Regions from separate parts of the Homo sapiens genome. Here all the other regions are linked to region 3. Evidence: fine-mapped expression QTL. A gene starts in region 3. Each other region holds a variant in brackets. All regions are shown on one strand. Distances are between the middles of the regions.

Region 1 (5,222 bases), 170 kb after region 3:
AACAGCAGTCTACCCTGCCCATAGCTCAGCAAGGTGGAGGTGAAATGACAGCTAAGGGTGACAAGGAGGAGTCAGCTGCAGAAGATGCAGCACAGAGAGTTCCTGCTGCCTCCCCGATTGAAGAGACATACTTGGTTTGTTTGTTGGTTTTGAGATAGAGTCTTGCTCTGTGGTCCAGGCTGGAGTGCAGTGGCACAATCTTGGCTCACTGCAGCCTCCGCCTCCCAGGTTCCAGCAATTCTCCTGCCTCAGTCTCCCGAGTAGCTGGGATTACAGGTGCCCACCACCATGCCTGGGCTAATTATTATTATTATTATTATCATTATTATTATTATTATTTTAGACAGAGCTTCGCTCTTGTTGCCCAGGCTGGAGTGCAGTAGGGCGATCTTGGTTCACTGCAGCCTCCGCCTCCCAGGTTCCAGCAATTCTCCTGCCTCAGTCTCCCGAGTAGCTGGGATTACAGGTGCCCACCACCATGCCTGGGCTAATTATTATTATTATTATTATCATTATTATTATTATTATTTTAGACAGAGCTTCGCTCTTGTTGCCCAGGCTGGAGTGCAGTAGGGCGATCTTGGTTCACTGCAACCTCTGCCTCCTGGGTTCAAGCAATTCTTCTGCCTCAGCCTCCCAAGTAGCTGGGATTACAGGCATGTGCCACCACACCCAGGGAATTTTTATGTTTTTAGTAGAGACGGGGTTTCACCATGTTTGTCAGGCTGGTCTCCAACTCCTGACCTCAGGTGATCTGCCCACCTCGGCCTCCCAAAGTGCTGGGATTACAGGCGTGAGACACCATGCCTGGCCACGAAGAGACATAATTTGGATTAAGATCTAAGGCTCTAAGACCACACAGAACCCTCAAACTGCTTGTAGGGTGACAATTCAGTAGGTCTCACACAGTACTGCCAAGGAACCAAGAATGCAGGTTCTGGCCAGGTGTAGTGGCTCATGCCTATAATCCCAGCATTTTGGGAGGCCGAGGTGGATCGCCTGAGCTCAGGAGTTCGAGACCAACCTGGCCAACATGGTGAAACCTTGTCTCTACTAAAATACAAAAAGTTAGCCAAGCGTGGTGGTGGGCACCTGTAGTCCCAGCTACTGGGGAGGCTGAGGCATGAGCATTGCTTGAGCCCAGGAGGCAGAGGTTGCAGTGAACCAAGATCTCACCACTGTACTCCAGCCTGGGCGACAGAGCAAGACTCCGTCTCAAAAAAAAAAAAAAGCAGGTTCTGCAGGCACACTGCCTAGATTTTGACACTGAACACATTGCTTAGCCTTTCTGGTCTTCCAGTTTTGTTTGTAAGCCGGAGCTATTAACTAACCTCAAGCCTTGCTCAAAGGATTCAATGTTTATTAAGGGAAGTGCCCGCAACAGTGCCTGGCACTCAGATAACACTCACATTTGCCAAGTCTACCATGACAACCCAGGGATTCCAAAACAGAATGGCAGAAAATCCACCTCACTGGGATTTTTCTGTTTAGAATGACAAGGAGGAGAGAGAAATGAGAGTGACTGCCAAAAGGGCTGGAGCCATGCCCAGGTGGAGGGCCTCTGGAGGCTGCAGCGATGCCAGTGGGGCCAGTCCCTGTGTGTGTGAGCACATGGGGGCAGGCAGGGACAACTAAGAGATCTGGACAGGCTTGCAGGGCTAGCCACGTGGCTGATGGTGGTCAGGGAGGTAGTAACACAGCAAACCTGATCTCAGAGACCAAGTGAACACATGGGACTCGGTTCTTACAAGTGACAGTGACTCAGTGAGAAGCTGTCAGCTTGTTCAAGCCCGTCTGTGTTCTGGATGGCATGCCACTCCATGGGCATTCAGGAAATGTCAAAGCTCCCGAGAGCATCAGCCTCGCCTGCTCTGGGTAGCACAGGCTGAGGGCGAGACTTGCCTCCCAGGTGGGCCGGGCTATGCCCCCTTGGTGCTGCCATAAGGCTCACCACAGATGATTTTCAAAGACCAGGTCCTGACAAGTCAGAGAAGGGTTCAGGTACTTGCTGAGCTGGGCAGCAATAGGGTGATGCCAGCCTAGGGGTGAAAGGGGCAAAGGTTCTTTACTTCTGTGGCTTAACACTGAGGGAGCTGCATGCAGGTTCAGGAACTTCCCTGTCAACAGAAGCAGTAACACAACTGGCTTCTGCTGCTGAATGTTTTATAATTAAGGGACAGACAGGATGCATCCTGGGCTATGCAGCAGGAGGATCCCTTTTCAGCCTTAACTCCATCAGGATGTCAATTCTCTTGCCCCCTCTCCAGCTAAAACAAATCCACTTTTAAACTTTTTTTTTTTGAGACGGAGTCTCGCTGTCACCCAGGCTGGAGTGCAGTGGCGCAATCTTGGCTCACTGCAACCTCCGCCTCCCGGGTTCAAGCAATTCTCCTGCCTCAGCCTCCCAAGTAGCTGGGAGGCTACTTTTAAACTTT[TA/A]AACTTTCTAACAGAGGGCCGGGCATGGTGGTGCACGCCTGTAATCCCAGCACTTTGGGTGGCCGAGGCGGGCGGATCATGAGGTCAGGAGATTGAGACCATCCTGGCCAACATGGTGAAACTCCGTCTCTATTAAAATACAATTAGCCAGGTGTGGTGGTGCGTGCCTGTATTCCCAGCTACTGGGGAGGCTGAGGCAGGAGAATTGCTTGAAACTGGGAGGCAGAGGTTGCAGTGAGCCGAGATCACGCCACTGCACTCCAGCCTGGCAACAGACCGAGACTCCATCTCAAAACAAACAAACAAGCAAACAAACAAACAAAAACCTTTCAAACAGAATGTATACAATCAGGAATGACAGGCTGTGTTGAATGAAGATACAGAAAAACTGAGCCTCATTGTTCTGCAAAGAGGTTATATATGCTTAGGTGGCTGGGAATGGTGGTTCATGCCTATAATCCAGCACTTTTGGAGGCTGAGGCAGGAAGATCACTTCAGTCCAGGAGTTTGAGACTAGCCTGGGCAACATAGCAAGATCCTATCTCTAAAAAAAAAAAAAAAAAAAAAAACCCTAAAAAAACAAAAAAAACAAAAATGAGCCAGGTGTGATGGCATGGCCCATAGTCCCAGCTATCCAGGAGGCTGAGGTAGGAGGATTGCTTGAGCCTAGTTCAAGGTCACAGTGAGCTGATTGTGCCACCACATCCCAGCCTAGGTGACAGAGTGAGACCCTGTCTCAAAAAAAACTTGGAATTAAAAAAAAGTTGGGGCCGGGTGTGGTGGCTCATGCCTGTAATCCTAGAACTTTGGGAGGCCGAGGCGGGCAGATCACCTGAGGTCAGGAGTTCCAGACCAGCCTGGTCAACATGGTGAAACCCCATCTCTACTAAAAATACAAAAATTAGCAAGGTGTGGTGGTGGGTGCCTGTAATCCCAGCTTCTCAGGAGGCTGAGGCAGGAGAATCCCTTGAACCCGAGGTGGAGGTTGAAGTGATCCAAGATTGTGCCACTGCACTCCAGCTTGGGTGACAGAGCGAGACTCCGTCTCAAAAAAAAAAAAGAAAAAAAGAAAAAAAGTTTTGGCTGGCTGGTAGGGGGTACCCTGGCGGGTAAACCCGTGGATGGGATAGAGAACTCAAGCTCCAACAGCCTGAGACCACTAACTTTCAGACCAACGAGTTAACTGCCTGGCTGAGTCCCGAGGCCCCAGGAGGCCCTGGGTCGTTTTCCTGGGAGACCCATCTGTGTGGACAGCACTAGCCAGCTAAAAGCTTCACACATTTTGCTCTGTTACTTCTAATTGACAACTCCTAAGTTGGAATTTAGGTTAAAAAACTCAAGTGGTTTAAGCTTTCACCTCAAGTGGGTTTGCCAAAGCAATCTGCCTAGGAATGGCAGCAGCAGCAAGATAATTTTCCACTCACGCCTAAGATTCCAAACACGACACAACTCCCTTTCCAACCACCTTCCTGAAGTGCTACCAGGCAGCTCTATTATCTAAGACGGTCTCTTCACTACTCGGTGGTTGTGCATCTGTCTCTCCTTTCAAATGAACTTCTCTAGGGCAGACTGGGCCCAGCTCCTCTCTGTTCCCTCACACCTGGCAGAGCTCCAGGTACATCTGATCCTAGGCCTCCTTGAGCTGAGAGCCTGAGTAGACCAGCTTCCCCTCAGCCCCTTTCACTCTAAGCAGCTCTACGCCCCATCTACTCTGTGCATGGGGCACTTACTCCTCAAGTGGATCATGGAAGCTGGCTGCTGTCCATCTACTCACCTGTCTACTTAGACACACATTTTGGGGAGTTAAGAAGTTACAGCAGGGGCCGGGTGTGGTGGCTCACGCCTGTAATCCCAGCACTTTGGGAGGCCTAGGCAGGCGGATTACAAGGTCAGGAGATCGAGACCATCCTGGCTAACACAGTGAAACCCAGTCTCTACTAAAAATACAAAAAATTGGCCAGGCATGGTGGCAGGCGCCTGTAGTCCCAGCTACTCGGGAGGTTGAGGCAGGAGAATGGCGTGAACCTGGGAGGTGGAGGTTGCAGTGAGCTGAGATTGCGCCACTGCACTCCAGCCTGGGCAACAGAGCGAGACTCCATCTCAAACAAAACAAAACAAAACAAAACAAAACAAAAAAACAGTTACAGCAGGATGCGCTCAATATCCAGTCACCCGCCAAGATCATATCGTCCCATCTGCTAGAGAAAGTACCATCCCAGGGAACAGAGGTTGCCTGTGAAAGGCAGCAGCCTGCACAGCCTGGAACCATGTATGCAGCCCCCCAGCCTCCCTCAAGCAGGCAGGAATCACGCAAGATGGAGTCTTTGGAGCACTTGTTAATCCGTTATGATTTATTAGCTGTACAGCAGTAGATCCTCCTCCCCAGCTTTCAACCCCATTACATATTTTATTACAGGTCTCATGTTGGCGTCCTAAAATAATGAAAAATATCACACAGTACAGCTAAGTACAAAATGCATCAACCTAGAGTCTGATAGCTAACTGATGGCTCTCTTAAAAGCAATACACAGAAGAAAAAAGTGTTTGAAATCAGTAAGACTGAGGCTCTCTAAAAAACACATTTTTAAACATGTGACAGTTCATGTGCAAGAATCACTTTTTAGTTGGTTTTGCTTCACATTATTTTATTTTTTGAAGATCCAAGGTTTAAATTACTGACCTAGTGAAATTTTCTGGCCCAGCTTATAAGGGCTGCTGTGAACCACTCATAATCACCCTTCTGCCTTAACAGAAGATTTATAAAACACAACAATCAGCTACAAACA
Region 2 (5,222 bases), 23 kb after region 3:
TATAGATTCTTTGGAGAAATGTCTGTTCAAGTCCTTTGCCTGTTTGGGTTGTTTGTCTTTCTGTTGTTGAGTTATAGGAATTCTTTATTTTTGATATTAAACCCTTATCAGATCTATGATTTGCAAATACTTTTTCCTATTCCATTGATTGTCTTTTCACTCTCTTATTTTTTATTTTTATTTTTATTTTTTTCAGATGGATTTTTGCTCTGTCGCACAGGCTGGAGTGCAGTGGTGCAATCTTGGCTCACTGCAGACTTAACCTCCTGGGCTCAAGTGATCCTTCCACCTCAGCATCCCAAGTAGCTGGGACTACAGGTGCATGCCACCATGACTGGCTAAATTTTAAATTTTTTGTAGAGATGGGGTCTTGCCATGTTGCCTAGGCTGGTCTTGAACTCCTGGGCTCAAGCAGTCCTCCTGCCTCCACAGCCTCCCAAAGCACTGGTATTACAGATGTGAGCTACCATGCCTGGCCTCTTGATGATGTCTTTTTTTTTTTTTAATTATTATTATTTTTTTTGAGATGGAGTCTCGCTCTGATCTCCGCTCACTGCAAGCTCCGCCTCCCAAGTTAACGCCATTCTCCTGCCTCAGCCTCCCGAGTAGCTGGGACTACAGGCGCCTGCCACCATGCTCGGCTAATTTTTTGTATTTTTAGTAGAGACGGGGTTTCACCGTTTTAGCCAGGATGGTCTCGATCTCCTGACCTTGTGATCCACCACCTTGGCTTCCCAAAGTGTTGGGATTATAGGCGTGAGCCACTGTGCCTGGCTTTTTTTTTTTTTTTGAGATGGAGTCTCACTCACTCTGTTTCCTAGGCAGGAGTGCAGTGGTGTGATCTCAGCTCACTGCAACCTTTGCCTCCCGGGTTCAAGTGATTCTCCTGCCTCAGCCTCCTGAGTAGCTGGAATTACAGGCATGGACCACCATACCTGGCTAATTTTTGTATTTTTAGTGGAGACGGGGTTTTGCCATGTCGACCAGGCTGGTCTCGAACACCTGACCTCAAGTGGTCCGCCTGCCTCAGCCTCTCAAAGTGCTGGGATTATAGGCATGAGCCCCGATGATGTCTTTTGATGCACAGAAGTTTTAATATTAATTAAGTCCAATTCATGTATTTTTCTTTTTGTTCATCCTTTTTGTATCATCTCTAAATCCATTGTGAAATCAAAGGTCATGAAGATTTACCCTTACGCTTTCTTCTAAGAATTTTATGGTTTTGGCTCTTTCCTTTTTATTTTAGTTTTTCCCTTCCTTCCCTCCCTCCCTTCTTTCTTTCTTTCTTTTTTATTTATTTATTTATTTTTGAGACCGACTCTCGATCTGTCACCCAGGATGGAATGCAGTGGCACGATCTCGGCTCACTGCAACCTCCTCTTCCAGGGTTCCAGTGATTCTCCTGCCTCAGCCTCCCGAGTAGCTAGGATTATAGGCACCTGCCACCACGCCTGGCTACTTTTTTTGTATTTTTAGTAGAGATGGGGTTTCACCATGTTGGCCAGGTTGGTCTCAAACTTCTGACCTCAGGTGATCTGCCCGCCTCGGCCTCCCAAAGTGCTGGGATTACAGGCGTGAGCCACCGCACCCAGCCTATTTTTTTTTTTTTAAGTGCTACTGGGCCAGTGCCAGATTTTTGGCCCAGGGCCTTACCTCTTATATTTAGATCATTTTCTTTTCTTTTCTTTTTCTTTTTTTTTTTTAGATGGAGTTTCGCTCTTGTCACCCAGGCTGGAGTGCAATGGCTCAATCTCGGCTTACTGCAACCTCCGCCTCCCGGGTTCAAGCGATTTTCCTGCCTCAGCCTCCCGAGTAGCCGGGATTACAGGCATACACCACCAAGCTAGGTTAATTTTTTTTTTTTTGGGATGGAGTTTCACTCTTGTGGCCCAGGCTGGAGCGCAATGACTCGATCTTGGCTCACCGCAACCTTCACCTCCCAGGTCCAAATGATTCTCCTGCCTCAGCCTCCAGAGTAGCTGGGATTAGAGGCATGGGCCACCACGCCCGGCTAATTTTGTATTTTTAGTAGAGACGGGGTTTCTCCATGTTGGTCAGGCTGGTCTCAAACTCCCAACCTCAGGTGATCCTCCCGCCTTGGCCTCCCAAAGTGCTGGGATTACAGGCGTGAGCCACCAGGCCTGGCCTAATTTTGTATTTTTAGTAGAGA[T/C]AGGGTTTCACCATGTTGGTCAGGCTGGTTTCAAACTCCTGACCTCAAATGATCCACCCGCCTTGGGCTCCCAAAATACTGGAATTAACAAGCGTGAGCCACCTCTCCCGGCCTCCACCTGATTTTCTTATGTTGAACCATCCTTGCCTTTCTGGGATAAATCCCATTAGGTTGTGGTATATAATCCTTTTAATACACTGTTGGATTTGGTCTGCTACTATTCTATTAAGGATTTTTGCATCTATATTCATCTATATTGCTCTATAACTTTCTTTTCCTTTGATGTCTTTTTTTTTTTTTTTTTTTTGAGACGGAGTCTCTCTCTCTGTCACTCAGGCTGGAGTGCAGTGGCGCCATCTTGGCTCACTGCAACCTCCACCTTCCAGGTTCAAACACTTCTCTGCCTCAGTCTCCCGAGTAGCTGGGATTATAGACACCCGTCAGCACGCCCGGCTAATTTTTTTGTATTTTTAGTAGAGATGGGGTTTTACCATCTTGGCTAGGCTGGTCTTGAACTCCTGACCTTGTGATCCACCTGCCTTGGCCTCCCAAAGTGCTGGGATTATAGGCGTGAGCCACCGCACTCAGCCTGATGTCTTCTTAGTGGCTTTTTGATTGCTGTTCCAGGGTCTTCCTCATCTTGGGTTTGCATCTGGGCACTGCACATTTACAATGTGCACAGACATTTTTCTGTGAAGAATTGAAGTCTAGGTCAAAGCTGGGAAGGAGCTTAGGAGCCTTTGGTTTAACCTTTCCTCCTCTAATAAGGAACCTGATATGTGGGTTGAAATCTAAGACCCATAGTCTTGAATTAGGCTGGAGTGTCTGAGACCAGCCTTTTAGAGTCAAGGGTGTTGTGTTTGGAGCCCTGCTGTGAAGTGTTCTTGTCACCTCAGAACTCTTCAGGAGGCAGGAGGGGAAGTCAGACTTGTTGCCAAAGGGGTTCTCTGTGCAGGGTTCTCAAACTTGTTATCAGGACTGGGTGGTAGAGTACAGTAAAGGGGTCGTCTCCTTCCCGTGGCCTTGTACATATCTGGGAGGTGTGAGAGTCAGGTGGCCCTGGTTTCTAAAGTTCTGTCCTCTGTCCACCACCAGGCCTGCCTGGGTCGCAGAAGAAACTCTAGTCAGTTGGAGCTGTGCCAAATCTGTCTCACTGCAGCAGGGTCTCCTGCGTGTGTGCTCTGTGCCCAGCTTGGGACATACTAGGTGCCATGTGAGCCGGAACCTCAGGGCCTCTGCTCAGCAAGGATTTTGACTGTTTCTGAAGCTGTACTGTTGTGATGCAGCCTCTGCCCTTCTGTCAAGACTCGGGGTGCTAGGTGGACCAAGGAGCTGACTGTGAAAGCCACGTTCCCTAATGTGTCCCCCATCACTGAAATGTCCTGGGGTGATCCAGAGAGAGTCTGATGAGTGAGAGCCAAAAACCTCTGCAGTATGTAGCCATTACTCTTAAAAGTGGCTTTTAAGAGATGGCTCTTAAAAGTGGCTTTTAAGAGATGGCTCTTAAAAGTGGCTTTTAAGAGATGGCTCTTAAAAGTGGCTTTTAAGAGATGGCTCTTAAAAGTGGCTTTTAAGAGATGGCTCTTAAAAGTGATTTTTGGCCCAGCACGGTGGCTTATGCCTGTAATCCCAGCACTTTGGGAAGCCGAGCTGGGCGGATTACATGAGGTCAGGAGTTGACCAGCCTGGCCAACATATAGTGAAACCCCATCTCTACTGAAAAATACAAAAATTAGCTGGGTGTGGTAGCGCACGCCTTGTAGTCCCAGCTACTTGGGAAGTTGATGCAGGAGAATTGCCTGAACCTGGGAGGCAGAGGTTGCAGTGAGCCAAGATCGCGGCACTGCACTCCAGCCTGGGTGACAGAGCAAGACTTCGTCTCTAAAAAAATAATAAAATAAAATAAAATATAAAATAAAATAATTGGCTGGGTACGGTGGCTCACACTTGTAATCCAAGCATTTTGGGAGGCCAAGGCAGGCTGATCGCTTGAGCTCAGGGGTTCAAGACTAGCCTAGGCAACAGGGCAAATCCCCATCTCTAAACTACCCAGGTGTGGTGGCACTCACCTATGGTCCCAGCTATTCAGGGGGCTGATGTGGGAGGATGGCTTGAGCCTGGGAGGCAGAGGTTGCAGTGAGCAAGGTCTCACCATTGCACTCCAGCTTGGGAGACAGAGTGAGACCCTGTCTCAAATAAAAACTAAAAATAGAAATTAAAATTTAAAAATTGTAAAAAGTAATTTGTGTTAGTTGTAGAAAATCTGGAAAAGCAAAGAGAAAAAGGAATCCAAGAGGACTGGACTGTGCTTGCAGCTCTCCACATGACTGCAGGGTTTCAGCAGACTTGAGCTCGGGTGGCAGGGCTGGGTGGACCCCCTTGCTCGGGTGGCAGCATGGACCCCCTGCCAGTTGCAGTGGATAGTGGGAGCTTCTGGGTGGATTTGTGAGTGTGGACACCTGTGGGCCTTTGCTGCCTGCTTCCAGGTGCGGTTGCTTCTTCTCTATCTTGTGTTCTGGTGGATCTCGACTCCACTTGTCCCAAGCAGTGCCTATTTGCTGCCCTCTTCTCTCTTGAGCTAGATAGGGCAGAATAGCTGTTCTCGTATCTCCACCTTGCATTGTGGTTTTGGCAGGCAACGGTAGGAACTGAGAAGTTACAGGCCTACTCATGGCCTCACTGCCACGAAGAGCTTGTCTGTTGCCTCTCTGTGCTTCCTGTCTCACCTCTCTGGCATGATATTTCTTCTCCACTTTGCTGCCATATAGAAGAAAGGAGTAAATCAGATGGCTTTACCTTACTTTCACCTGTGTCATAGCGTAAATAATTCCCTCTCCCCAGCTCCTGAAATATATCCTGCAGTTAGAAAAGAAGGCCCTGGTAGAGAAGTGTTGGGAGCTAAGCTGCTCTATCTATTCTAGTCACCTGCTCCGGGAGTAAAAGCCCTTGTTGCCGCCCTCCCTCCCAGGCTGACCCAGGCAGGTTGTATCTGTGAGTGTTTCTAGCATAGCCTGGCCCATTACCAACAAGGAAGCAAATATTCACCTCCTTT
Region 3 (5,222 bases):
GTTTTTGTATTTTTAGTAGAGATGGGGTTTCACTATGTTGGCCAGGCTGGTCTTGAACTCCTGACCCCAAATGATGTACCCACCTCAGACTCCTAAAGTGTTGGGATTACAAGCATGAGCCACTCACTGCTCCCGGCCTGTATTATTTATTTATTTATTTATTTATTTTTTTTTGAGACGGAGTCTTGCTGTGTCTCCCAGGCAGCTGGAATGCAGTGGCAAGATCTCAGCTCACTGCAACCTCCTCCTCCTGGGTTCAAGCAATTCTTGTGCCTCAGCCTCCAGAATAGCTGGGATTACAGGCACAGGTCACCATGCCTGGCTGATTTTCTTTCTTTTTTTGAGATGGAGTCTCACTCTGCTGCCAGGCTGGAGTGCAGTGGCATGATCTGGGCTCACTGCAACCTCCACCTCCTGGGTTCTCCTGCCTCAGCCTCCCGAGTAGTTGGGACTACAGGTGCAAGCCACCACACCTGGCTAATTTTTGTATTTTTAGTAGAGACAAGGTTTTACCATGTTGGCCAGGATTGTCTCGATCTTTTGACCCCGTGATCCGCGCACCTTGGCCTCCCAAAGTGCTGGGATTACAGGCGTGAGCCACCACGCCCGGCCATTTTTTTTTTTTTAATAGACAGGGTCTTGCTTTGTTGCCCAGGCTACAAGGCACTAGTGTGATCACAGCTCACTACACCCTCTCGAACTTCTGGGTTCAAGTAATCCTCCTGCCTCAGCCTCCTGAGTAGCTGAAACTTTTATTATTATTATTATTATTATTTGTAGGGACAGGGTCTTACTATGTTTCCCAGGCTGGTCTTGAATTCCTTACCTCAAGTGATCCTCCCACCTTGGCCTCCCAAAGTATTGGGATTACAGGCATGAGCCATCATGACCAGCCCTGTGCTTCTTTCTTAAAATGAATGGGGATTCTCTTTCTGGGTCTGCTTCATATCCTTTTCATAGAGAATGGCAGTTTACTAAATTAATCCTGTGCTGGGTAACAATTCTCTTTCTCTCTCTCTCTTTTCTTTTTCCTTTTTTTTCTTTTTTCTTTTTTTGAGACGGAGTCTCACTCTGTCGCCCAGGCTAGAGTGCAGTGGCGTGATCTTGGCTCACTGCAACCTCTGCCCTCTGCCTCCCTGGTTCAAGCGATTCTCCTGCCTCAGCCTCCCAAGTAGCTGGGAATACAGGTGCCTGCCACCATGCCCGGCTAAATTTTTTTTTTTTTTGAGACGTAGTCTCGCTCTGTTGCCCAGGCTGGAGTGCAGTGGCAGGATCTCGGCTCACTGCAAGCTCTGCCTCCCAGGTTCATGCCATTCTCCTGCCTCAGCCTCCCGAGTAGCTGGGACTACAGGTGCCCACCCCCATGCCTGGCTAATTTTTTGTATTTTGTAGAGACCGGGTTTCACCACGTTAGCCAGGATGGTCTCGATCTCCTGACCTAGTGATCCCCCCGCCTCGGCCTCCCAAAGTGCTGGGATTATAGGCGTGAGCCACCGTGCCTGGCCTCTTAGGGGCTTTTGTAGGCTTTTCTCTGTCAAGGCAGCAGACCCTGAAGAGTTTAGGTGGGATTGGGTGGTGTTTTTTTTTTTTTCCCCCACTGGGAATGAGTAGAAGGGGGGACACTACATTCATTCAACACTTACTGGGTGCCTATTACATACAAGAGCTGTGTCAAGAGCTTCACATATTCTGCCTAAATGTTCCCAACAATGTTTGTGGGGTGGGCTGTATCATTCCCATGTTTGAGATATATAAGCTGAGGCCTGGAACTTGAAGGGCCCTGTCTGAAGTCCCAAAACTAGAAAACGATTTAGCCAAAATTTTTGTTTTAATCCGTATGTATGGCTCTCCAGGCTGATGGAGCTGGTCATATTTTGCAGTACCCAGAGGCTATACACCTGAGTACAGGCAGAAGCTACCCAGAGGATGATCTCTCCAGGCTTCTAAAGTATTTCTTTACTTGTTCAATGGTAATATTACTACTTTATACAGTTGTTGTGAGGATTAAATATGGTACGTAGGCCGGGTGTGGGGGTTCACGCTTGTAATCCCAGTTTGAGAGGTCGAAGTGGGAGGGTCGCTTGAGTCTAGGAGTTCGAAACCAGCCTGGGCAACGTGGTGAAACCTCGTCTCTACAAAAAACAAACGAACAAAGAAACACCCAAAAATTAGCCAAGCGTAGTGGCGCATGCCTGTAGTCCCAGCTACTCGGGAGGCTGAGGTAGAAGGATCGCTTGAGCCCGGGAGGTCGAGGCTGCAGTGAGCCGTAGTAGTGCCACTGCACTCCAGCCTGGGCGACAGAACGAGATCTTGTCTCAAAAATAAAATATTTAAAAATGTGGTATATAAAGCATTTGGCATATAGTACATTCAATACAAGCTGGTTGTTACTAGTAATGATAAAGTGCGCCTACCGTTTTGCTAGCACGTAACGTCTTCACTGGGCTAAATCAGCCCGATTCTAACCATTGACTCTGTGGTGCTGGAGCCCTAGATCAATGGTCAGAGGCCAGCAGGAGGTGCAGAGGTCCGGATCAAGTGCCATTTCCCTCTCTAGAAGTACTCAAACCCTCATCTCTGCCCTCATCCCTGCCAGCGCCTACCTCGACGCGGACGAGAAGCTGTGGTACCGCGACTGCTGGCAGGCCATGACCCACGGGCAGGCGGGCAATCAGCACCCGCGGCCTGGGAAGCTGTGGTAGCGTACAGCCGGTCGCCATGGCGACCAGGCCCCAGAGGCCCCCCCGCGGCGGGGGCGGAGTCAGGGATGCGCCACGCCCCCGAGCCTAGCGCCCGCGGGCTGGGAGTAGGACAAAGTAGCAAAGGTGGACTGGGACCCGGCAGCGGGTGCCCTGAGAGTCAACCACTACAGCCGATTTGACCCCAGGTACCAGAACTGAGGCAGGGGGATGAACAGAGGCCATGGGGAGGGAAGTGTGCTGAGAGGCCGGAGCCGCTTTGCCGGCGGGAATGGTAGTTTTCGGTGTCCCGACGTCTCGATGGGACAGGCTTATGGCTGAGGACGGTTATACTACATCTCCCAGAATTCTCTACCAGCCCGAGTTGCTCCGCCTCTCGAGAGCTCTGCATTGTGGGGTATGGAGTTCGAAATGTGGTAAGGCGTGTCAGTGTCCAAAGAGGGGTGCCGGACTCGGACTCGGTTTCCCTGCGGCCCAGGGAGGCTCACGGGCCATTGGCTGAGCGGGGCGGATCTGGTCCCGCTCCTCCCCGCCCCCAGTGACACAATAGTAGCTCCCTCCAAGATGGCGGCAGCGACGGCAGACCCGGGAGCTGGGAACCCGCAGCCTGGGGACTCCTCCGGCGGGGGCGCTGGGGGCGGGCTGCCGTCCCCTGGGGAGCAGGAGCTGAGCCGGCGCTTGCAGCGCCTGTATCCCGCGGTCAACCAGCAAGAGACTCCGCTGCCGCGCTCCTGGAGCCCCAAGGACAAATACAACTACATTGGTCTCTCCCAGGGCAACCTCCGCGTCCACTACAAAGGTATCGGCCCGTCAGGCTGGGGGGAATTAAGGCTAGAGCGTCCGTGGGGTGGCTCTGCTGCCAGGCCCCCGCCCTATCACCTCCCTTTCCCTGCCTAGGTGCTCCAAGTTAGGGCTTGGCCCTTTCAGGATGTCCAGGGTGGTGAGGCTGAACAGGCCGAGGGCTGACTGCCTGTTCTCTGTCCTGAGACACCTGCCGTCAAGAGAACCGCAACAGGTGTCCAAACCCAGTGCTGGGCCGGACCTTCCACTCCAGGGCCTCCGTGCTTATCCTAGGCTGGCGCCAACGGCAGCGGGACCTTTCGCCACTGCTTAGAAGAAAGGGGTGGTCACATACCTACCATTAGCGTGAGACTCATGGGCTTCCCCACCTGCCAGGCATCCTAGACTGAGCCTGGGGTTCCGTGCTAGAGTTTGGGGGGTGTCTTCCAGGTCGGCCTCATCCTTCTTCCCCTGGCCTCCCAGGTGGGCTGCCTGGATTCTAGAGAGGCTGCCAGCAGCACTTGAGTATCTCTCACATTGCCTCTACCCTTGTTTTGTTTGTATGGGCAGTGTCTCAGGCAGGACTGCTGTTCTCAGGAGGAGGTGAGGCAAAGGTGGAAGGTTTAAGTGTTTATTCAGTTGTCTAATGATTCCTCGGCCTGTGTAAGTGCGTCCTCTGGCCACAGAGGAGTGGAGTTGTCATGGAGGAGTTGCAGAGAAAAATGAGGCTTCCATTTGCATTTCCTTCTGCTGAAATTTCTTACTTGCCCTCTCCTGTTAGGTCATGGCAAAAATCACAAAGATGCGGCCTCAGTGCGTGCCACCCACCCCATACCTGCTGCCTGTGGCATTTATTACTTTGAAGTGAAGATTGTCAGCAAAGGAAGAGATGGGTAAGCCCTTCATGACCACCCTCTTTCCCTGATCATGGAGCTGATCCCTGTGGTCAGAGTTCAGGTCCTTTGGCTGGCACTTGTTGCTGATGTGAGCTGGGGAGCCGCATGGGTCTGGGCTGCCATTATTTCCTGACTGTGGGCATGGTCTGGTCTAAGCAGCAGATCTTGATGGCCAGTGGGTGTGTTGGGGGTAAAGCAGGGATTATTTTTAGTGATGATGTAATTTGATACCTAGAAGGTTAGGCAAACAAGTAACAAGTTTACTTTAAAAATTTAGTGTCCAGAATGGAGTTTCCCTCATGAGCATGTGGTGTTTTTGTGACTTCCTTCCTTTCACATTCTTGCTGTATTCATGAGGTTCTTTTTTATGGCATTTAGTCATGTGGAGGCCCTGGTAGCCTTCAAAGAGATAGTAGAGTCTTTGCAGCATTCATGAAAGCTTCTGTGGCCACCGGCCTGTCATCTCAGGGTAAACAGCATACACATGATCAGAATCAGGTGACCTTGCTGCTCATAAACTTGTTTTTCAGTCCAAGGACTTGAACACTACTAGTTGGATCAACTTTAGGAAGGTCCTCATTAAAGTCAGCATTAGGAGCCAGGCACGGTGGCTCACGCCTGTAATCCCAGCAATTTGGGAGGCTAAGATGGGCAGATCACCTGAGGTCAGGAGTTGGAGACTAGCCTGGCAAACATGCTGAAACCCTGTCTCTACTAAAAATACAAAAAAATTAACTGGCATACCTGTAATCCTATCACTTCAGAAGACCGAGGCGGGCGGATCACTTGAGATCAGGAGTTCAAGACCAGCCTGGCCAGCATGGTAAAACCCCATCTCTAAAAAAAA

Evidence for each region.
Region 1: its variant is fine-mapped to the expression of TSNAXIP1 in aorta (GTEx, PIP 0.93).
Region 2: its variant is fine-mapped to the expression of TSNAXIP1 in thyroid (GTEx, PIP 0.97).

Annotation. Positions count from the first base shown.
Region 1 is chr16:67,638,721-67,643,942 of GRCh38, reverse strand. CTCF (CCCTC-binding factor) reads right to left here. Exons shown (of 12, transcript NM_006565.4): 12 at 4,766-5,222. Among named protein-coding and RNA genes, the nearest start is that of CARMIL2, 3.8 kb to the left of the region's middle. The variant TA/A (reference allele first, on the strand shown) is at 2,436.
Region 2 is chr16:67,781,300-67,786,521 of GRCh38, reverse strand. The region is part of intron 2 of RANBP10 (RAN binding protein 10); the gene reads left to right. Among named protein-coding and RNA genes, the nearest start is that of RANBP10, 23 kb to the left of the region's middle. RefSeq lists an enhancer at 4,913-5,062. The variant T/C (reference allele first, on the strand shown) is at 2,171.
Region 3 is chr16:67,804,578-67,809,799 of GRCh38, reverse strand. TSNAXIP1 (translin associated factor X interacting protein 1) reads right to left here and starts at 2,911. Exons shown (of 16, transcript NM_001288990.3): 1 at 2,604-2,911. The coding sequence starts at 2,650. RANBP10 (RAN binding protein 10) reads left to right here and starts at 3,240. Exons shown (of 14, transcript NM_020850.3): 1 at 3,240-3,498; 2 at 4,261-4,372. The coding sequence starts at 3,264. RefSeq lists silencers at 2,682-2,801, 3,302-3,521 and enhancers at 2,942-3,171, 2,877-3,496, 3,497-4,117.